Regions from separate parts of the Homo sapiens genome. Here region 2 is linked to region 1. The links come from fine-mapping of genetic effects on gene expression. A gene starts in region 1. The other region holds a variant in brackets. All regions are shown on one strand. Distances are from middle to middle. Region 1 holds the start of UQCRC2 (ubiquinol-cytochrome c reductase core protein 2). Region 2 overlaps UQCRC2 (ubiquinol-cytochrome c reductase core protein 2).

Evidence for each region. PIP is the estimated chance that this variant, and not a neighbour inherited with it, causes the effect.
Region 2: its variant is the best candidate, but not a certain one, in a credible set for the expression of UQCRC2 in whole blood (INTERVAL, PIP 0.62).

The regions. Positions count from the first base shown.
Region 1 is chr16:21,947,393-21,958,649 of GRCh38, reverse strand. It overlaps UQCRC2 (ubiquinol-cytochrome c reductase core protein 2), which reads right to left and starts at 5,289. Exons shown (of 14, transcript NM_003366.4): 1 at 5,194-5,289; 2 at 1,332-1,415; 3 at 1,084-1,233; 4 at 51-115. The coding sequence starts at 5,226. It also overlaps a transcript of PDZD9 not described here. RefSeq lists enhancers at 4,947-4,996, 5,007-5,176, 4,691-5,408, 5,497-5,956.
Region 2 is chr16:21,973,081-21,984,337 of GRCh38, reverse strand. It overlaps UQCRC2 (ubiquinol-cytochrome c reductase core protein 2), which reads right to left. Exons shown (of 14, transcript NM_003366.4): 11 at 10,362-10,442; 12 at 8,095-8,171; 13 at 3,638-3,791; 14 at 678-1,250. The coding sequence ends at 1,167. PDZD9 (PDZ domain containing 9) reads left to right here. Exons shown (of 4, transcript NM_001363519.1): 4 at 1-473. The coding sequence ends at 71. It also overlaps the pseudogene LOC100420644. Among named protein-coding and RNA genes, the nearest start is that of PDZD9, 22 kb to the left of the region's middle. The variant CTG/G (reference allele first, on the strand shown) is at 4,208.

The DNA of each region.
Region 1 (11,257 bases):
TTGAATATTTTCTGGCATTTTCACTATTTTCTATTACTTATTTAACAAACCTTAATTTGCCACCAACTGCTTCAATTCCACGGGTTATCTTGAAAGATGAAGCTCCTTTTGTCGTCTTGAAAAAGAAAGAATGATTATCTTTGTAGCTTTTCAATGCCAAGTTTGCCAAACATCACACTATATCAAAATCTGTTGTGAGCAGATTTAAAAAGAATTTTACTAAATTCCTGCATCCTTTTTAGTTAAGAATTATAAAACAAGGCTCAACAAAAAGCTTAAGTATACATTTTTACATTAAGTACATTCATGTAAAATTTCCACTGTCAAATACAAGCTTACTGGATTCATTAGTCTATTCTGAAAGAGACTTGTATATGGGAAAAAAAGAGTTAATTTTCTTTCAATTTGCGGCACTTCCTGTTAAAAATTTGTTTACTGATTTCTTATGCTCTAACATCAACATTCATATGGATACTAATTTAGTGCTTCTCTGTGGCAAATATCTTGTGGTTTCTCATTTTACATTAGGGGACAGTACTGGGTTTAACAGTGTTCCCCCCCAAATTTATGTCCAGCCAGAATATTTGCATGTTACTTTATTTGGTAATAAGGTCTCTGCAGATTTAAGTACTTAAGATGACATCATATTGAATTATAGTGGGCACTAAATCTAATGTAACTGGTATCCTTATCAGGAGGAAATGTGGACACAGACAGAAGGAAGGCCATGTGACAACAAAGGCAGAGACTGCAGTGATGCAGTTGCAGGTCAAGGAACATGAAGGGTTGTGGGCAACTGCTGGAAGCTAGGAACAGGCAGGGGAGGATTTGTGCCTTCCTAGAACCTTTAGAGGGATCACAGCCCTGCTGATATCTTGGCTTGGCTTAGACACCTTGACTTGGACTTCTAGCCTCTAGAACTGTAACAGGATAAACTTATTTGGTTTAAGCTACCCAGTCCGTGGTAATTTGTTATGGCAGGTCAAGGAATCAAAATATAAAGACATTGATCTTAGTTTTTCTTTTTCACAGGACCAAGATACCACAGCATTTCCAAACACTTGAGGAAGTGAAGATACTCACCAGACTGGATGTAAGACGCAGCAAATGGGTGGTTCCTAAATTGCTGAAGTCCTCATATCTACTGCCTGCTTTAATGAACAAACCAATTCTTGATACAGGAGAATAGTTTTCCAAAGAAGCAATCACCAAGCCATTTGGTAACTTGGTAAACTGTATTTAAAATAAAGTAGAGATATAATGAATGTCTTCGTATTACCAAGGAGAGTAAGGCATGTATAGCTTCCAGCGAGCAAGTTAGTGGGACTAACCTCAAGGTCCTGAGGTTGTGGCGGTGCTCCTGCAGGCGCAGCTGTGGCTTTAACTTTGGGGGCAACTTTGAGGGAATAAAATCTCTAAACATAAAAAACACAGGTTACACGTATTTCTCACAAGAACAGTGCTTTATATAAAAGCATGGTATCTTAGGGTACCCAAGCGACAGAGGGTGTTCGGGGGTGGAAGGAGCAATAACCACCTCCATGGGAGGATTTACCTGCATAACATTTTTTTTTTTTTTTTGAGACAGAGTGTCTCTCTGTCGCTCAGGCTGGAGTGCAGTGGCGCAATCTCAGCTCACTGCAACCTCTACCTCCTGGGTTCAAGCCATTCTCCTGCCTTAGCCTCCCAAATAGCTGGAATTACAGGTGCGTGCCACCATGTCCAGCTAGTTTTTGTTTTGTATTTTTTAGTAGAGATGGGGTTTCACTGTGTTGGCCAAGCTGGTCTTGAACTCCTGATCTTAAGTGATCTGCCCACCTTGGTCTCCCAAAGTGTTGGAATTACAGGCGTGAGCCACTGCACCCCGCCTAGCTGCATAACTTATTATGGACTTACTAACCCACCAGTTTACCCAAGCCATTCTTAAACCTCTATTTATTAGTGATTTATAGAGTTCTTGATGCTTATTTTTTAAATGATGTAAAGAATCACTGTATTTTCTTATCTTTCAGTTACCTTATAAAAGTTTCATGGTTCTGTGTAGTTCTAAAGCTTTGGCATTTTTTGAAAAAGTGTCAGATCACCCCATCCACAACCTTTTTTGTTGAGTTGGAGTCGTGCTCTGTGTCCCACGCTGGAGTGCAACAGTGCGATCTCGGGTCATTGCAATGTCTGCCTCCTGGATTCAAGCGATTCTCCTGTCTCAGCCTCCCAAGTAGCTGGGATTACAGGTACATGCTGCCACGCCTGGCTAATTTTTTGTATTTTAGTAGAGATGGCGTTTCACCCCATAGCTCAGGCTGGTCTCAAACTCCTGAGCTCAGGCAATCCACCCGCCTCGGCCTCACAAAGTGCTAGAATTACAGGTGGGAGCCACCACACCTGGCCTGTGTCCACAACCTTTTATAGGTTTCAGCTTCTTGCTTCTTTTATCTGCCCAATGAATGTCATCCGTTCAGTCTAATTTCCAATTGAAATGGTTTCATCTCCTTAATCATCTTAGTAACCTTTAAAAAAGACAAACTAGCCGGGTGCGGTGGCTCACGCCTGTAATCCCAGCACTTTGGGAGGCCAAGGTGGGCGGATCACCTGAGGTCAGGAGCTCGAGACTAGCCTGACAAACATGGAGAAACCCCATCTCTAATAAAAACACAAAATAAGCGGGGCGTGGTGATGCATGCCTGTAATCCCAGCTACTGGGGAGGCTGAGGCAGGAGAATCACTTGAATCCGGGAGGCGGAGGTTGCAGTGAGCCGAGATTGTGCCATTGCAGTCTAGCCTGGGCAACAAGAGCAAAACTCCGTCTCAAGAAAAAAAAAAGAAAAAGACAAAGTATATACCAACTTCCTCCAAGCCCTCAATATTTTCCATTGTATCTTCACTCTTGTGTGCTGTATTAAGACCACACAACCAAAGGTCTTAGTTTTTTTGACTAAATAAAACATTTATGACATGTATGTCATCCTGAGATTAATAATGGCTTCATCCACATCAGATTCTCAATATATAAAATGCAGTTACTGGTAGGGTGAAAGGGTCCCATTAAATATTAGATAATGGACCCAAAATGCATTCATTTTATTCAGTTTGTTTTGGCAAATGTTATACAATGCCATACAAATCATTCTGATTATGACTAAAGTTCATGAGGTTATTAGAGGAGATGATGAGTGAATAAAATTTGGTGCTCCCAAGACCCAATGAACACCTCCTCACTGGAGTTTCCCGGACATCCCTGCACAGTCTGCAATGCCTCCACTCTGTGCTGTCCAGAAGGCTGTTTGTTGTACATCATTAGTGCTGTACTAGGTTGGCTGCTGGTTATCACTTGCTTTTAGTACTGCTTTTCAGTTATGAATTACAATTAGCTTTACTTTATCGTCATCAATTTAGTTTGCTGGGTATGGTATAGTTAACCTTCTTTGTAATTTTGGCCTATAATTTTCCAAAAAGTAAACTTTTAAGATATATGGGCATAGCAATTCAAATATGAATAATCTATAATTCCGTTACCAAGTGAGATTTTAGGTGTTTTCCAACCAAATGTGCCCAAATAGTAACTCTTTGTTGGTAATTTTTTTTTTTTTTTTTTTTTGAGACGGAGTCTCGCTCTGTCGTCTAGGCTGGAGTGCAGCGGTGCGATCTCGGCTCACTGCAACCTCCGCCTCCTGGGTTCAAGAGATTCTCCTGCCTCAGCCTCCTGAGTAGCTGGGATTAGAGGCGCCCACCACCACCACGCCCGGCTATTTTTTTTTTTTTTGTATTTTTAGTAGAGACGGGGTTTCACCATGATGGCCAGACTGGTTTCGAACTCCTCATCTCAAGTGATCCGCCTGCCTCTGACTCCCAAAGTGCTAGGATTACAGGTGTGAGCCATCGCGCTCCGCCGGTAATGTGCTTCTTAATCGTCCCATTCAAATCAGCAAATTATCCTAGTAACTGTCATGCAATCTTCTAAATTATTTTGTTCTAATAACAAGATATATCTAAGTTTATTCTCCTATATAAAGTGCTAAAATTAGACACATAAATAATTGCTTTCAAGTTTACTGCAATTTGTTTACTTTGGGCCTCTCCAACTGTTTTCTCTGAGCTTTTTCTGTTGCAAAATAGAATGGAGAAGGAAATGTTGGGGTCTTTTGCCAATCTAACCGTGCTTCCCTCCAAGGGTAATCACTGGTGTGTCTAGGTATACCTGGAAGGTTAATGCAATTACAGCCTAAATCGATATAGCCCACAGCACATTTATGTAAACATAAAGCATAAGAACATTCCATGCCCAGGTCTGGTCTTCTGCATCTCCATCTAGGGGGGTTTCTCAACACAGGTACTACTACTGGCACTTGGGGCTAGATAATTCTTTGCTGTAAGGCGAAGTTTAGCAGCATCCCTGGCCTCTCCATGCCAATAGCACCCTCCTTACAAGTTGTTGCAACTAAATATGTCTCCAAACATCGCCACCGGTTCCCTGGGGGCATTCTGTCCCTCGCTATGATTTTTTAAGTGTTCCCCCTTACCCCTCTTAATAACCACTGTCCCACAGTGATATAACCCTGATGTGTGAGTTTTCCCCAAGTGACAGCTATGTTTAATTTAGGCTTGAAGGGGAAACTTAATTAAGGAGCTTTTGAGGACAAACAGAGACGTCTTGGAGGAACCGTCTAACATACGATCAAGAAAAGCAACGTTAGACTACTAAGACACCATAGTATTTAACAATGAAGTTCCAGGTACTGTAATAAGTGTTCTATCTGCATTAGCTCCTTTCTTATACTTTTATTCGCTGGGGAAACTGACGCTCCGTGATAAACCAAGGAGCAGAGGCTGCAGCGGATAAAGTGAAGGTGGGGGGCTAAGTGCGCCGTCCTCCCGCTCCCCCTGGGTTTCACGGTCTCTTTCTCCAGCACTTGAGTACCGGAGTGACCTTCAGAAGTCTCTCCAAGGACTCGCTTCAACTCCGCTCTCACGTCCTGCCCCTCTCTTCAGGTTTCCCGGTGTTAGGTCTCTTGTGCTCACAGCATGAGCTGGGCCTCCAAAGCCTGACCCAGTCTGCAGCCCACTTGGCCCGCAGGGTTCAGCTGAAGGGCAGACCGAATCCCAAGGCCCAGACCCCAGACCAGACACCTCCGCCTCGTATCACCTTGTCGACACACTGCTCCCCAGCCCTTTCCCAAACCCGCCACCTGAGCTCACCGAGAAAGAGCCGGCTCTGGTTAGTAGCTTCATGATTCAAGATTGTTCTGACACACGGTCACTGCCGGATTAAAGGAAAGCAAGATGGTGGCGGAGGCCGGGAGTTTCCCAGCGTTCCCCGCTAACACTTTCCCACGTCCCCTTCGTGAGGTACTCTCTATACTGCCGCGCTCTACTGCTCTCTTTATAAGGTTGGACCAGTCCAATTCCTCCAAGACTCAGAATAGGGAGACGCACAATTTCCCAAGTAAATATATGCAGAGAATAATGTACGTCACTGCTTTTTGCGTTCTTCTCCTAGCCTGAATATCCAGTATGCACCCCTTTTCTAAGTACGTCTGCAGCAGCCTGTCACAACTCCCCCCGCTATCTTGGGCTCTTCCGCTCAGCATTGTCCAATGGGACGCGCCTCTCTTGGGACTCCGCATGCGCCCTCCGGGATGACACCTGCACTGGAGGCCCTGGGTTTCCGCGTTCCTGGACGTTGGAGGCTTCAGGAGATTCCTGCCACTCCACCTTTCTGCAGAGGTATTGGGTATCGAAGCCCGGCGTAGTTGCCTCTCGCTGGGTGAAGTCCTTACTGGATCTTTAGCTCCGTGAAACAGGGGCCTCGTTCAACGTATTCGCCGCTGTGTCCCCCAGAGCAGGCCCGGGACACACCGGGAGGGTCAGCAACCTCGGGGAATCATCACAAGGCTTTTGGTCTCGTGGAATTTACGTCCTAGGCTGGGGCTACATAGAATATAAAAACTTAGCTATAGTTTTTGTGTTAGGAAAATAGAAATGTTTTGGATAGTAGGTGTGTTATGTGAGCCGAAACCGGCAGTTGGAGAAAGTCAGTCACGTGACGACTTGGGGCGGGGGCGTTCACTCCGGTCCTCAGCGAGTGTTAACCCAGAAAGTGCCTTGAGCTAGGCACTATGCCAACGCGAGAGGCGTGGTCCCTGCCCTTTAGGGACTTTAGAGTTTCGTACCTTGCTACGTTGCTTGGTTGGGAAACCGACAGTATCAGCATCAATATCATTTAGGAGTTGATTAGAAATGTATGAACTCCAGGTCCCATATTGGATCCGAATCGGTGTTTTTACAAGATCCTGGGATGACTTCGTATGCACAATAGTTTCAGAAAGGCTGGTGGTGTAGACGTTACAAGGCATAGGCAAATGTACTTTCTTTTTGCCTTGTGTCTGAATTGCTCCAGGCCTACAACGGACTTGGGCTCTCTAATTAAGATCTGGGCATTAAGAACCTGGCACCAACCCAATTTCTGTGCCTGCTGGGGACGCCCTCAACCCAATTCATACCACACAGTTTCCCCACATGTGGTAGATTTAACACTAGTGGTGCGTGAGATGATTTTAAGTTGGTACATAGATGAACACTTCCATTTTTTCCTTTTAAAAATTTGTATAAATTTAAGGGGCGCAAGTACAGTTATGTTATATGGATATATTGCAGTAATGGTGAAGTCTGGGCTTTTAGTGTACCCATCACCCGAATAATGTACATGGTACCCATTAAGTACTTTCTCATCGTTCACCTCTCTCCCACCCCTCCACCTTTCGGAGTCTCCATTGTCTGTCATTCCACACTCTATGTCCATGTGTACACCTTATTTAGCACTGTTCCATTTTAATAATATATTTATTTTGATTATGGCAAGCAATGCTAGTAGTGAATTTCCTCTTTAAGTACATTTATAAAATAATAAAAGTTGGTGTAAAAACGTTAAGTAACTTGATGATACGGAGATACAGCAAAAATCATGAATGTGTTATACAGGTACCATTGAGTGAAATCTGGGAAGCAGTGCTCTGATCAAGCCACCTGCCTGCTTAAAATTCTTCAACGACAGCCACGTTTTTCAGGATAAAATTCAAATTCATTAACATGGCATACAAAGCTGTCTCCAGTACTTCAAAACCCCAATTCCCAAGTTAGCTAGCTGCACCCCTGAGTCCAATCATTGTAACTTCATCATTCAACAGTTCAGGTCAGGTAGGAGGAACACAAAAGTCTCCACACTCAAGTGCACACACACACACACACACACACACACCCACACCTGCTTATAATGTCCTCTCATTCTTAGGTTATGACCCAATATCAGAAAGGGGCAAAAATAAATTCTGTTCAAAATGTGGCAGGATTTGAAACATAATTCATGATATCAGCTACATAAATCATAAAATCCCAAGTTTGTCAATTGCAAAATGTCCTATTAAGCATTAAGCTACAAATTAGGAGTGCCATCTTGTGGACACATCCACCACTTCCACATCATGTCACCTCCTAGCCAACTCCGTGGCTGTTCTCACTGTGGAGGTCTCTGCCACAACTCCAGCATTTTATTGCAGAAGAAAACCCAGTCCTTGAACTGGTTTCTGCGTAGAACACACTGAAAGCCCTGGGAGAGGAAACCAGCAGACAGGAAAAGAGTAGACATGGAAGAGCAGATGAGTTCATTGCTGGAAAGCTCGAATTGTTAGTTTCGTTAATGTGGGGTCCAATTTGACTCTATGGAGCCTAACTACCTAGCCTGAGCGCTCGCGGTGAGTATGGGGTGGGAGAATGTAAAGAGAAAGCAGGCAACAGTAGGAGTAAAACACACCAGAGGAAGGTGATGTGGGTTTATACTTGGGAACAACATTACCTTGCCATCTTAGGGCCAGAGGCATTAATCATGGCTTCCCCAATGCATAATTTCGATGTTGGCATTTCCTTCCCCATTCCTTTCAGAATCCTACCCTGTCAGGTATTATCTCTGATGAAATATTCCCTGGGCCAGGCACAGTGGCTCATGCCTGTAATCCCAGCACTATGGGAGGCCAAGGTGGGTGGATCACCTGAGGTCAGGAGTTCAAGACCAGCCTGGCCAACGTGGCAAAACCCTGTCTCTACTGAAAAAAAAATACAAAAATTAGCCGGGCATGGTGGCAGTTGACTGAAATCTTAGATACTCGGGAGGCTGAGGCAGGGAGAATTGCTTGAACCTGGGAGGCGGAAGTTGCAGTGAGCCGAGATCACTGCCATTGTACTCCAGCCTAGGCGACACAGCGAGACTCTGTCTCGGGGGGGAAAAAAAAGTTCATATCAATTTCTAATATTCTATAATTATTGTTTTTGGTCACATATACTTTTTCCATGTATTGAGGTGAACAGATTGGTCTTATTCTGTGTTAAGTTATATTGATTGATTCAAATTATAAATAAACCTTTCATTCCTGTTATAAACCCAACTTGGTCTGGATGTTTTATTCTTTTAATATATTGCTAGACCTAATTTGCTACTTATTTGTTTAGGATTTGTGCATTTATGTTCCAGAGTGATACTGGCTTTAACTTTCACTTTCATTCCCCCCATTCATGCATTTTTCTGTCATAGATAAAATGAGTTAGGAAGTGTGAAAGGAAAAAAAATCTCAGGGCCTCCAAATCACTAAGCCAAAGGGAAAATTCAAGCTGGGAATGATGTCAGACAAACCTGCCTCCCGTTTTATTCCTAAATAAGATAGCTATAAGGATAAAAAGCTACATAACTTACCTTACAATTTGCCCACAGGGCAATTCCATGTGGATCTGAGGATCTTTACCCTAAAACAGTTTTGTTGAATTTCACCCTGGCAATGTAAATTGATAGCTGTCTTCCTTCCTTCCTTTCCTTTTCTTCCTTTCCTTTCTCTCTCTCTCTCTGTCTCTCTTTCTCTGTTTCTCTCTCTCCCTCCCTTCCTCCCTCCCTCCTCCCTCTTTTTTTTTTTTTTTTTTTTTTTTTTGGAGAGTTTCACTCTTGTTGCCCAGGCTGGAGTGGAATGGCATGATCTGAGCTCACTACAACCTCCACCTCCTGGTTTCAAGCAGATTTTCCCACCTCAGCCTCCTGAGTAGCTGAGATTACAGGCATGTGCCATGATGCCTGGCTAATTTTGCATTTTTAGTAGAGACAGGGTTTCACTATGTTGGCCAGGCTGGTCTCGAACTCCTGACCTCAGGTGATGCACCCACCTCGGCCTCCCAAAGTGCTGGGATTACAGGTGTGAGCCACCGCACCAGGCCTGATAGCTTATTTTCACAGGTGCAGGACAAAGGACAGAACTCAAAGTCCATCTTAAACAAATGTGTATCTGATGGCTTCCTCTGCCCTATTGTTTACATTGTATTATGTAAAAAAAATGAAGATTCTCTGAGCCAGACAATGACATAAGTGAGTATTCCTCTGCCCATCCTCTCACATGTAAATTGTATATTCAGTGAAAGGCTGATCAAAGACTCAAGGGGATGCAACCCTTTGTCTCTTGTATACCCACACATTTTTAAATTTTTTCTTTTTTTTTTTTTTTTTTTGAGACGGTCTTGATCTGTCACTCACGCTTGAGTGCTTCCAGTACTTCCTGGGCTCAAGTAGTCCTCCCACTTCAGTCTCCTGAGTAGCTGGGACCACAGGCATATGCCACCACATCTGGCTAATTTTTGTATTTTTGATAGAGATGGGGTTTTGCCATGTTGCTCAGGCTGGTCTCAAACTCCTGACCTCAGGCAGTCCACTGGACTGGCCTCCCAAAGAGCTGGAATTAAGATTTCAAATTTTCTTCCTTTTCACCCATATCAATCCTTTCTCCTTAAATATTGAAGCCCTTGAAATCATCTTTGGAGAAAGGCATAGACATACCTCTCAGGCGCTTATCCTTAACCTTGGCAATGGAAACTTTCCACATTGATTGAGACCTGTCTCAGATACTTTTGGTTCACAGAAGTAAACGTCTTTTCCCAGCTTTCGTATATTTTGCGTGCTCCCTTTGATTCTGTCAGGCTTTTATTTTATTCTTTATTAGGGTGGGTCTATTTAGGTTTTTGATCTTATTCTAGGACATGATCTTTACTTCTAAGGCATGGCTTTTCTGGAGTTATAACTGTAAGGGGTGCTCAGTAAGGTATCTCTACTGTGGCTCTCAGTAAGAATTCCGACATTTTCTGCACTATGTAAACTCTGGGTCTACCTTTGTTACAGGTAGTTAGACAGGTATGAGCGGGACAGGAGAGGGCTCTCCCCCCATCCACCAGGAATGTCGGGTGATGATTTGGCAGTTATCACATTGCCTCTCTAAGTGATAAATTGGGCCAGGCGCGGTGGCTCAGACCTGCAATCCCAACACTTTGGGAGGCCAAGGCGGGCGGATCACCTGAGGTCGGGAGTTTGAGACCAGCCTGAACAACATGGAGAAACCCCATCTCTACTAAAGATACAAAATTAGCCAGGGATGGTGGCGGGTGCCTGTAATCCCAGCTACTCGGGAGGCTAAGGCAGGAGAATCACTTGAACCCAGGAGGCGGAGGTTTGGGTGAGCCGAGATCGCGCCACTGCACTCCAGCCTGGGCAACAAGAGCGAAATTCTGCCTCAAAAAAAAAAAAAAAAAGATAAATTGGAGAGGCCATTTCCTGATAGTCCACACCCGTTGCACTAAATTAACAGTGTTAATTGAATGCAGACACCAGGGAGAAGCAACTTCCTGGGCATGTGCATTAAGAGACAAAATGGCGGAGTATGACTTTCCAGGGTTACTCCACCAGAATAGGGAAGAAAGTCTCAGATGGGCATGGGTACAACTTCTTAAACACGCTGCGCATGCTCACCTCCAACGGGTGAGGGGGGTACCAGGCATGCGGGCAGCCCACCCTAAGGGAAGAATCATGAGAAAGGGGCCAGCCTATAAAGATTACTGTTAAACAGAGCGCTTGACCTCAGTGCCTGGTTGGGTCTCTTCCAAGCATACTTTCCTTTCCTTTTTTATCCTGTTCTAAAGCCTTTTAAATAAACTTCCACTCCTGCTCTGAAACTTGCCTTGGTCTCTTTTTCTGCCTTATGCCCCTCTGTTGATTTCTTTCTTCTGAGGAGGCAAGAATTGAGGTAGCTGCAGATGTACACAGATTCACCGCCAGTAACTCAGATATCGTCCACCGGTAACACATTCAGTTCTCAGTCTAGCAGGTGCCATTCTCTGATAGGCCTCACAGCATCTCTCCCTTTGCACATGGCACAGGCCAGCTCATGACTCACAGCAAACCCCA
Region 2 (11,257 bases), 26 kb before region 1:
ATGCATTTTGGCTGGAAGATTGTGCCCAAGTTGAAGAGGGTAAAGCCCAACTGGTATCAAAGGTTGGTTAGCAAATCTGTGGTCATATGAGCATTTATCTTGCAGACACCCAAGTTTTGTGCCTCACCAGGCACAAGTTTGCTGTACTTATCAAGGACTGTCTGTAGACTCACCAATTCTCTTCTCTTATGACTGCGTTATAAAGCCTTTAGAGATGTTCTTCAACAGGATTATCTAAAGACTTCCTTGGGTTCTTGCAGGCCTCACAAATCTTATTTTCAGAATAAGACCCTCCTTTTTGAGAAGAATTTCTTTCTTTTAGAAAATGCCGTAGAGAAATCCAATATCAGAATGTCTGAACATAGTAGAGAATGTCACTTTATGTAAACACTACATTTTTCTTTAAATATTTAGTTTCTCTCTTTTTTTTGGTAAACTTCAAGTACTATAATTAAAATAACTAAGAGACATAATTCTTTGGCTAGTTATTCACATTAGAATTCTTTTTTTTTCCCCTTTTTAGCCCTTCTTTTACTGTAAATGTTGAATTGAGAGTTAATTATTTGGAAGAGACAGGATAGTAACAGATAAGGGAGAGACAGGAGATGAGAGAAAAACAAAACTCTGTCAATGAAGATAAATCAGACATAAAAAAATGAATGAATGGGAATATAGGATATGATTGATAGGAAATGTATGTTTTTTGGAAATAATTTTATTGCAAAAAAGGCAAAACAGGGGTAAAAACCAGACCATTTAGCTGTTGACACCCAAAATGACAAATTTTGAACTTGCTTTCATCTTAAACGCCACCAATAGTAATCTGGCACTATTTACCCCGATAGCCACTTAGCCTTAATTTTAATAGTTTCTGATGCTTCTATACTCAATAATTATATTCCTGTCTCCTTTAAAGCATCTAAAACAAAGATATCAGCACATAATAAATACTTGTTGATTAACTCATTGAGAAAAACGTAAGAAAAACACTTAAACAGAATGTTTTATTGACTTTAGGTCAGCTGGGAATAATTACCTGCATTTATGCCTTATTTTACCTCACTGGAAAAAAGACAAATGATATATTAGAGACTTCTGACTTTCATGTGTTTGCTGCTCTGGGCTGAGAGAACGTTCAGCTCTCTCCTGTAATGTGTGCATCAGTATTACAACTCATCAACAAAAGGTGTATGTCCCAAATTTCCACTTGCTGCCATTGACTTCTGGCCAGAAACAAACTTCTTTGCCGCCTTTAAAGAAACAAACAAAAGACAAAATTAACAAAAATAAAAATATATATCATCAAGCAGGCGAACTTATTTTGTCATTTCAAGAATTTATGGATAGGACATTCTTTTTTTTTTTTTTTTTTTTGAGGTGGAGTCTCGCTCTGTCACCCAGTGTGGAGTGCAGTGCTGCGATCTTGGCTCACTGCAGCCTCCGCCTCCCAGGTTCAAGCAATTCTCTGCCTCACCCTCCCAAGGAGCTGGGATTACAGGCATGTATCACTATGCCCAGCTAATTTTTGTATTTTTAGTAGAGACGGGATTTCGCCATGTTGGCCAGGCTGGTCTCAAACTCCTAGCCTCAAGTGATCCACTCACCTTAACCTCCCAAAGTGCTGGGATTACAGGCGTGAGCCACCAACCTGGCCTTCGATAGGACATTCTAAGCCAGCAATTACTATAATAGCTGTTGTGAAAATTAACTAGGAGATGGCTGGTGCTTTAATTTGGGACAGTGTGGGAGGAAAAGCTTAGCTGTTTCTCTGAAAGTCCCATTGTATGTGTAATGAACCAAGCAAGAGCAACACTGGTAAGAGGGTAGCTGTTCAAAGAGAGATAAGGAAAACAACACTGACACTGTCAAATAGAGTAGTGTGGCTTCAGGCAGGGATATACTTTCCTGTTTCGGTATTACAATGGCAAATAGTCTGGGTCAATAAAAATACATTGATTGTTAACTTAAAAGTAAAACTTGATACCCTAGAGGATTCTTTATGCCACTACTTCCAAGTTCAAAGGCTGGTTAAGTGTAGTATCATGAGTCAGGTGTAGGTGGAGCAGCAGCCCCCATATTCTGTCAGGCCAGCTTATCTTATTACTATGAAGGAGAGGTGGTGGTGGAAGCAGTCGGGTTGGGACGCACATAATGATAGGATATAAGATGAAGACAGCCATTTAAAAGAGTACCAAATGGGCTGGGCGCGTTGATTCACACCTGTAATCCCAGCACTTTGGAAGGCTGAGGCGGGTGGATCACGAGGTCAGGAGATCGAGACCATCCTGGCTAACATGGTAAAACCCCGTCTCTACTAAAAATACAAAAAATTAGCCGGCCGTGGTGGTGGGCACCTGTAGTCCCAGTTACTAGGAAGGCTGAGGCAGGAAAATGGCGTGAACCCGGGAGGCGGAGGTTGTACTGAGCCGAGATCGCGCCACTGCACTCCAGCCTGGGCAACAGAGCAAGACTCCGTCTCAAAAAAAAAAAAAAGAAGAGTATGAAATGACGATTGGGGCGAAGTGAAATCAAGTCAGGGTTACTATCTTAAAATAGCCTTGTCTCTTTTTTATTTGAGACAGGGTCTCACTCTGTTGCCCAGCCTGGAGTACAGTGGCATGATCTCGGCTCGCTGCAACCTCTGCCTCCCAGGCTCAAGCCACCTTCCCACCTCAGCCCCATGAGCTCCTGAGTAGCTGGGACTACAGGCGCATGCCACCAAGCCTAGCTAATTTTTGTACTTTTTTGTAGAGATGGGGTTTTGCTACATTGCCCAGTCTGGTATTGAACTCCTGGGCTCAAGCAATCTGCCCACCTCAGCCTTCCAAAGTGCTGGGATTACAGGAATGAGCCACTGCACCCAGCTTAGTTTTTTATTTTTTCTTATCCCCACTGTCCCTATACAAGGTAGACCTGTTGGTGAGAAGATGGCCGAGACATCTACAGTAGAAAGCAAGTTGGCAAGTTTAATGTAGAAAATGGGGAAAACCCACTTACTTTGGATTAATTCTGTAGGTCATGTGCTTGTTAGGCACAGCAGGGAACACAAAGAAGTACATGACATAGTCCTTGCCCTCAAAACAGCTCAATATTGTAGGGAACAATAATATATGTGAAAAAAAAATTAGCAAGAACAAGAGAATGTCCTAGGCTGAGAAGAGTAAAGAAAATCTTAAGATGCTAGATGGTGAAATATTGCTAGGACTGAAGAGGAAAAATAGCAAACTTCACTATTTAGGTTGGATCATATGAAACTGCTAATATTTGACTCTTCTTTACTTCTAGTCATCTAACATAAGCCCATTTTATAAACTACCATTAGTTTAACCTAACGTTTGATACGTTAGGTGTATTAAATGCACTTTTGACTGCCATCTCAGTGGATGGCAGCCCTCTTACTGACATCACAGTTTAACCTAATGGTAGTTTATTTGAAGGAGGAAGATACATATACTCGAGCTGACAGGGAAGCTTGTTGCGGATCTTATGGGAATGAGCCCTCCTGCCTCCACATTAAGTAGATGAGCACCAAACATAAGAATAATACACTGCCCAAGGACGCTTATGCATCCTTCTGAAATTGGATCATTAAGGTTAAGTTCTCTGTTGTTAAATCGTTAAGTTTTCATTTACTTACATTTATGATATCAGCATTAGCCACTGAATCAATCTGCTGAAGGACTGTGGATGGTGGCATGTAAGAACCAGCAACTAGAGCCTGGGACCCGACTTCTTCCAGGAAACACTCAGAAGACTCCACTGACATTAGGTATCCAGCTTTCAGCTTGTTCCTGTCCAATAAAAGGCAGAAGTCAGTTTTAGAGAGCAAGGCAATTATTTTTTTTTTCTGAGTGGTGGCGGGGGGCTGTGAACATCAAAGCTTTATTTAATGGATAGAGTAACAGCGTGTCTCCCTCTTCCTGAATTCCCCAAGAAGAATGCCACTCCCTTCTCTGGAACATACTAAAACAGTAAGTCTGAAGGGAAGAAGTCTCTTCAGGGTTGCCAAAGTGTCCAATTGAGGGCCCACTTTGGCCTCCATTTGTGGGTCCATATGCTGCTACAGATTTGAGTGAGACAGCTGGAGAGCTCCCTAATGCTTCCCAAGGCCTCTGGATCCGGTTGTGCAATCTGGATCCTCTGCATGTCACTGGCCAGTCGCAGCATGCTCTTTCTCCTGCCCACTGGCACAGTGAGGAAGATCTCT[CTG/G]CTGTCAGTGAGAAGGCTGTCATCCACTGAGATGGCAGTCAAAAGTGCATTTAATACACCTAACGTATCGAACATCATAGCTTGGCCCAGGTTATCTCATATGTGCTCAGAACACTTACAATAGCCTGCAGCTGGGCAAAAGTCTTCTAACATAAGCCCATTTTGTAAGGAAGCATTGATTATCTCATGTACTGCATATCACTAGCCTAGGAAAAGATCGAAATTCAAGGTATAGTCATGTACTACATAATGATGTTTTTGGTCAATGATGGACCACATATATGATGGTGGTCCCGTTAAGATTATTAGGGAGCTGAAAGATTCCTATTACTTACTGACAACATAATGTTGTAGTGCAATTTTAAAAAAATAAATTTAGCGTAGCCTATGTTTACAGTGTTTAGTATCTACAGCAGTGCACAGTAATGTCCCAGCCCTTCCCATTTACTCACCACTCACTCACTGACTCACTCGAAAGCAGGAGCTATGCCATAAAAATGGCATACCATTTTTTTATCTTTTGTGCTGTATTTTTACTGTACCTTTCCTATGTTTAGATGCACAAATACTTACCTTTGTGTTATAACTGCCTACAGTATTCAGTACTATAGTACATGCTATACAGGTTTGTAGCCTAAGAGCAATAGACTATACCATAGAGCCCATGTGTGTAGTAGGCTATACCATCTAGATTTGTCTGAACACTGAGGTTCACACAGTGATGAAACCACCTAACACCACATTTCTCAGAATGTATCCCCATCGTTATGTGACCCATGACTGGAAGCTGAAATTGCGATGGTTTTCCTCCATAGTCAAGTTGAAAAATTATAATTGATCCATGGCAAGTTGGGGACAGTGTATATTGTAAACCTACCTTTTGGCTGCTACAGTGTGAAGACCAGGGATCTTGAAGAGCCTTCTGTCAAACCAGGGTGTCAGGCCTGTACTTGGTGTCACCACAGACAACTCCACCTGGCCCACAGCTGGGGTCACAGTGTTATAAAGGTCACAGTCTTGACCTTTTCCTTTTGCCTTTTCCTTGTATGAAGTGGGTTCTCTTCTTGGATGGAGGATACCGTTCAATGCTTGTAGTTTGAAGATTCTCATGTTTATTTTCTTCTTATGCTATCGTTTCACTTGTATTACCTGTGAGTTTTGGCAGGTTTCGGGGGTGTCTGAAGAGCTTCTGCTGTCTGTTTATTTCTGTGATATCCACTTCAGCTGTTGCTGCCTCTTTTAGGGCCTGTTTGTTTTCACCAAGGGTGAAGTAGTCAAGCCAGTTCCTCTTACACAGTGAAACAGGGCAATTTTAAGGTATGTGCCCCGAAACTCAACATATTTTTGGTAAACAGGCAAACTAACAACTTACAGTGCTAATGGCCTCCATTCTATTTCTTCAGTTCACCAAGTACGTGAACCGTTTACGTTACTATTTGGAAAGCTGTCAGTACGAAATTATACTGAAAACTCCACAGATTGCTTTTTGATTTGGGACTAGAACTTAGATCTAGGTAAAACTATTTTAATGTAAGGTTTTGATTAGTGAAGCAACTCCTGCCTCTTGCTGAGATTTGTCTGTGAGCATAGGGTATGATGGAAAAGGCAGGTGGGGAAGGGCAGTACAGGTCTTGTAAGCAACGGCAGCTTAAATATGGGCACAAAAGCATCCACTTGAAATAAAACAAAATCCAATTCACAATTCTCCCAGAAACTTATTACTTATAGACATGGTGTTTGATAAGACAGTCGAGTTATTTGAACCTCAAACGTTTATCATCCTTTAACACTCTACAGAAAGACTTCCATTTAAACATAATTACAATTTAATGCTGCAGTTTTACCACGTTGTCAGCTTAATTAAAAAATGATTTTACCTGCAATAAACTACCAAGAGGTTATTAGTGTGTCCTTTCGGCAATGACACCTCACTTTCTCTCTTTCACTACAGGAAGAACTTACAAGAAAAAGTATCAACTCCATCAAAATGGCAGAAAACATACTTTGACATTAATATTCAAAATTCTACTTTCTGCTTATTACCATACCTTGTAAGAACTGTGTTACACTTATTAAGAAAATACGTTTTCTTAAATAAATTAGATTTGAAAAACTTAGGTTTTTCTTAAGTAAATCCAGTGTTTCAATGTATTCTCATCATGTTTTGTTTCTGGTACAATCAAGCAGCCCTGCATCCTATCGATTCTTGGTTCTATGTATACAATATTTAATAAATTGTGTTGTACTTATACAAGAGATGCAACTTTGTAGTGTGCTCAGCATAACAAAACTAACAATACTAATGGGAACAGAAATGACCAAAAGGTTGTTCCATCCTGGGTTGTAATTCTGCTTCCCCTGTGGGCAATACTAAATGATCATAACGACCACTGGAGTTGCAAGATTCACATTTTGAATTGTTCTAAGTAGATGGAGTCAAACTTAAATGTCTTAAGCGGCTGTATGAAAATGCAGGTTGATTTCCAACTTTGTCCCAAGTCTGTCTCTTTTAGAGAAACCCTCGAACTACTAATGAATTAGGAGTGTTGATAGCACTTTCAATCTGGACAGTGGGGATTTATAAATTGCCAAATAGCAGACAAGTATTTTAGTCTTTCTTATAAAACAAAACAAAATCAGATCTTTTTTGGGTATAAATTAGTTATGAAGAAAGAAACTATTGTAGAATAGGTACTCTTATATACTGGTGGTATGATTATAAACTGGTACAATCTCTTTAGATTTGTGACTTAGAAATACATTTTTTTTTTTTAAGAGACAGGGTCTTGCTCTGTTGCCCAGGCTAGTGTGCAATGGCGTGATCTTAGTTCACTGCAGCCTCAAACTCGTGGGCTCAAGCAATCCCCCCTCTTCAGCCTCCTGAGTAGCTGAGGCTACAGGCACACACTACCACACCTGGCTAGTTTTAAATATCTTTTTGTAAAGACAGTGTCTTGCCACATTACCCAGGCTGGTTGAACTCCTGGCCTCAAGTGATCCTCCTGCCCCAGCCTCCCAAAGTCCTGGGATTACAGGTATGAGCAACTGCGCCTAGTCAAATGTATTATTTAAACATACACACATACACACACTCTAACATGGAGTCTTTCGTTATGTTTATAACTCTTAACTTAGTTGGGAATCTACACCAAGAAAGTAATACGAAACACAAAAATATTTTAAGCCCAAAGATATCTTTATAACTGCAGAAAATGCACAAGTGTATTTTGACACACCAATGAATATTGTTTAAATTTTTAGTAATTTGAATCAATGGAAACAGAATCATTGCTAGGGAAATCAGAGATCATTTTTGTCTTTTATTTGTAATTTTCAAACTTCTATAATAAGGATGCTATTTAAATAAGATAAAAAAGTATACAGATGGTCCCTAACTTAACTTATGATGGTTTGACTTATGTTTGTTTGGCTGGATGACTGGGTTATTAGGGTATTAAATGCATTTTCGATATGCGCATTTCTCAGGACGTAACCCCAGTGTAAGTCAAGCAGCATCTATATATACAATATTAACAATTATGTTTAAAAATGCATGATCAATAAACTAAGAAAAATGTTAACAATTATTCTCTAATTTTGGTGGAGACGAGGTCTTGCTATGTTGCCCAAGCTGGTCTCAAACTCCTGGTCTCAAATGAACCACCTGCCTTGGCCTCCCAAAGTGCTGGGATTAGTGAGCCACTGTGCCTGGCCAAAATGTTAACAATTATATCTTTAGGTGGTAGGATATGGGTATGTTTCCCTTTTTACGCTTTTCTGTACTTCTCAGTCCTTATGAGCATAGATTGTAATATTGTTATAATCTGAAAAGAATACAACTTTCAAATAACAAAAACATAAAACACAGTTAATACTGAGACTTACTTGGCAGCTTGGACATCTGTGTTGGAAAGGTTTCCTTGAGCTATTGTTTTTACTTGATTATAGGCAGCCTTGATAACCTAGGACAGATAAGAAAAGTTGGTCATCTGTGGTCAGTACCAGAGTCTCCTGCAGCACTGACACACTTCTTTACTGAGGCAAAAACACAGATGGAAGGTTAGTTCCAGACAAACAGCACAGTGTCCATGCGGAATGCTGTCATCACTATGGGTTCCTTATTCTTCCTATGTTCATAAAGCAGCTGTTTATACACAATCCTCCTGCCCCAGCCTCCCAAGAAGCTGGGACTACAGGTGCATGCTACCAGGCCTGGCTAATTTTTTAGCTTTTTTTGTAGAGATGTGTGGGCTCAAGTGATCCTCCCACCTTAACCTCCCAAAGTGTTGGGATTATAGGTGTGAGCCACCACACCCGGCCAAACACATGGATTTCTAATCACCCATAAAGAATAAGCACCTTTAAAACTTCCCCAGACTCTTGCAGTGTCATGCCATTAATACTGCTATCTCTTACTATTCACTAAGAAGAGAGTAGTAATCCATACACAGCCAATTTGTAAGGCTTGTCCATACTTTGTAAGCCAGGGTCAAGAAGGAATCTGAATCCTTGTATGGTATTTAAAAAAAGAAAGAAAGAATAAAGTTCCGGGGATGTGGGTACTTGGTAAATATTTGTTGAATAAATAAATAAATCTGACCATGATTTTCTCCATCCCAGTGCTGGCTGGGTCTGCTACTTATTTTTCCCTCTGATCACCTAAATTCTAGGACCTCTGTTTCCCCTTCATTTTAGCTGCCCATTTTCAGAGCCACACCCCAGACCTGATCATAGCCTAAATTTGCATACCTCTGAAGCCCTCAATTCTAAGACCCCGACCTCAGTCTTTAATCTCACTATCCTTATTCTTCCACTTTATCAAGATCTCTAGTTCCTTGACTTGTCCAGTCTTTCAATTTATCAGGCCCCCTCTGGCTTCACTTCTCTATTGAGCCTAGATCCCTGAATCATCCTTTTAATCACTCTTGCCAATGCTCCCAACTCCCTTGCTATCTCCTCATACTTCTCACCTGCCCACTTTGCAGGATTCCAACCTGGGATTAACCCTAATACCTACCTCCTCCATTTCTCTATTAGGCTTCTGAATGCAACTGAAGAAAAATTACATGACAGTGCTGACTGACTGTACTATGAATTTGTGGTCGCTGATTTCAAGGATACATCTACACTACAGCGAATACCCACTTTTTGTGTACCTCACTATTTGTCTGTCCCAAACTTCACTACTTTCTTTAAACTTTCCTCTCACGTCTGTCAAAACATGACTTAGCCTCCTGTCTCACTGAGGAGGTACTTCCCCATCTTCCCAATATCTTCCAATATTAGCCTGTCTGTAAGGCTAAAAGGTCCACTTGTGTGCTGGATCCCAAGTATTCCTTTCTCAGACTTGAGCCATTTATAATTTTCTATCTCCGATATCTGCTCCGATCTTTTTGCTCAGTATGTCTCTTTCAACCTAATCTCTCAGTGTAAACTCTCCTAAAACAACTTGCTCCTTGAATGTCTAAGCTCCACTAGCCCACACCAACCTCTCATTTCTTACTTGTCATTCATTCCTTAATCACTACACATTTTACCCAATTTCCACTACTCTAGTCAAAACTGTTAAGATCACCCATGATGTCCTAGCTTGCTGAAACTACCAGACTTCTCAGTGGTAATGAATGTTATTTCACTGTGGGTCAAAATGGTGTTAAACATACTCTCTTTCCTATCCTTCAAATATATCAGCTTCTCTTTTTCTTTCTGTTTACCTGGGCCATTTTTCTTAGCCACTTGCTCCTTAAATGGTGTTGTTTCCCAGAAATTGAGCTTTAGTTTTCTTTTCCTACAATCATTCACACATATCCCTGATTTCAACACAATCTCTACACTGAAGACTTGCAAATAAACCTCCTGGTCTTCCCCTCTCCTGGGTTCTCAATTTAGATGTCTCAGAGCCAACTCAATGCAACTTGTCCAACCAGAACCAAAACATGAAGGAGGCAATTCTCTCCTCTTTCCTGGAAGCATTAGTATACATGTGTAAATTTCCCTATAGCAGATAATGCTTCAATGACATCATACTATACAGAGCTCTGATAAGTCATTGCACTGCATTCAAACATTCCATATTTTAACCGAAAACATGTTTATGGCGGGGGGGAGAAATAACTTGTTCATGAAAGAAGTTTGGTGAGTTTGCAACTTACATCTCCAGCAGCTGTGGCCTGGGAGATAGTATAAATCCCAAAGAGTCCAGAATCTGAGTAACTGGCATTAAATGCAGAAACCTGAAAGATAATGAGACTTTACTGTATGATATTCTACCAAGTAAAACAGGGCACGATTTCTTTAAGTTTGCCTAGAAAAAACTTGGACCTTCACGGTATAAACAAAATAGATTAATATTTTACTTAGCCAGTTCTGTCACGAACTGAAGTATTCTGTAAATAGGTTACCTCTTTCAGAACTATCACGGCTTTGTTTTTTCATTTAAATATTTCTAAAATGACTGCTCCCTTTCCTTTATGCTGGGTATTTTCTAACCTGCTTTAGATGATTAAAGGTTTATGCAAACACTAATCTGCAAACATTATTATTATAATATAGATAGGCTTTGGCATTAGGCAGACCAGGTTTCTTCTCTCTGCTGTTGGTAGGGACTTTTTCACCAATTTACTTTCATTTCTCTTATACACTCATGTCAGAAAGTTAGAGAAAAATTTCTGCTTAGTGGTCATTATCCAGATGTCCAAGCTATCAAGAGTTTAACCTCTGAATAACAGGGATATTGTTATCTAGTTTGAGCAGAGCTTTTAGCTCTCTAGGGTGAACCCGATTTGCAGTGTTTATGTGGACCATTTACATAAAAATTATCTAAGTTCTTATTAAAAATACAAACTTTCAGATTCCCAAAATGGACCTACTGACTCAGGTCCCTGTGGATGCAGCCTGGAAGCCCAGATTTTTAACAAGTGTTCCAGGTAATTCTTATGTACAATAAACTTGGAGAACCATTGGCTCAGTCCACGTAAAGCATAAGAAGGCACTTCAATTTCTTTTATTTATTTATTTATATATATTTTTGAGACAGAGTCTTGCTCTG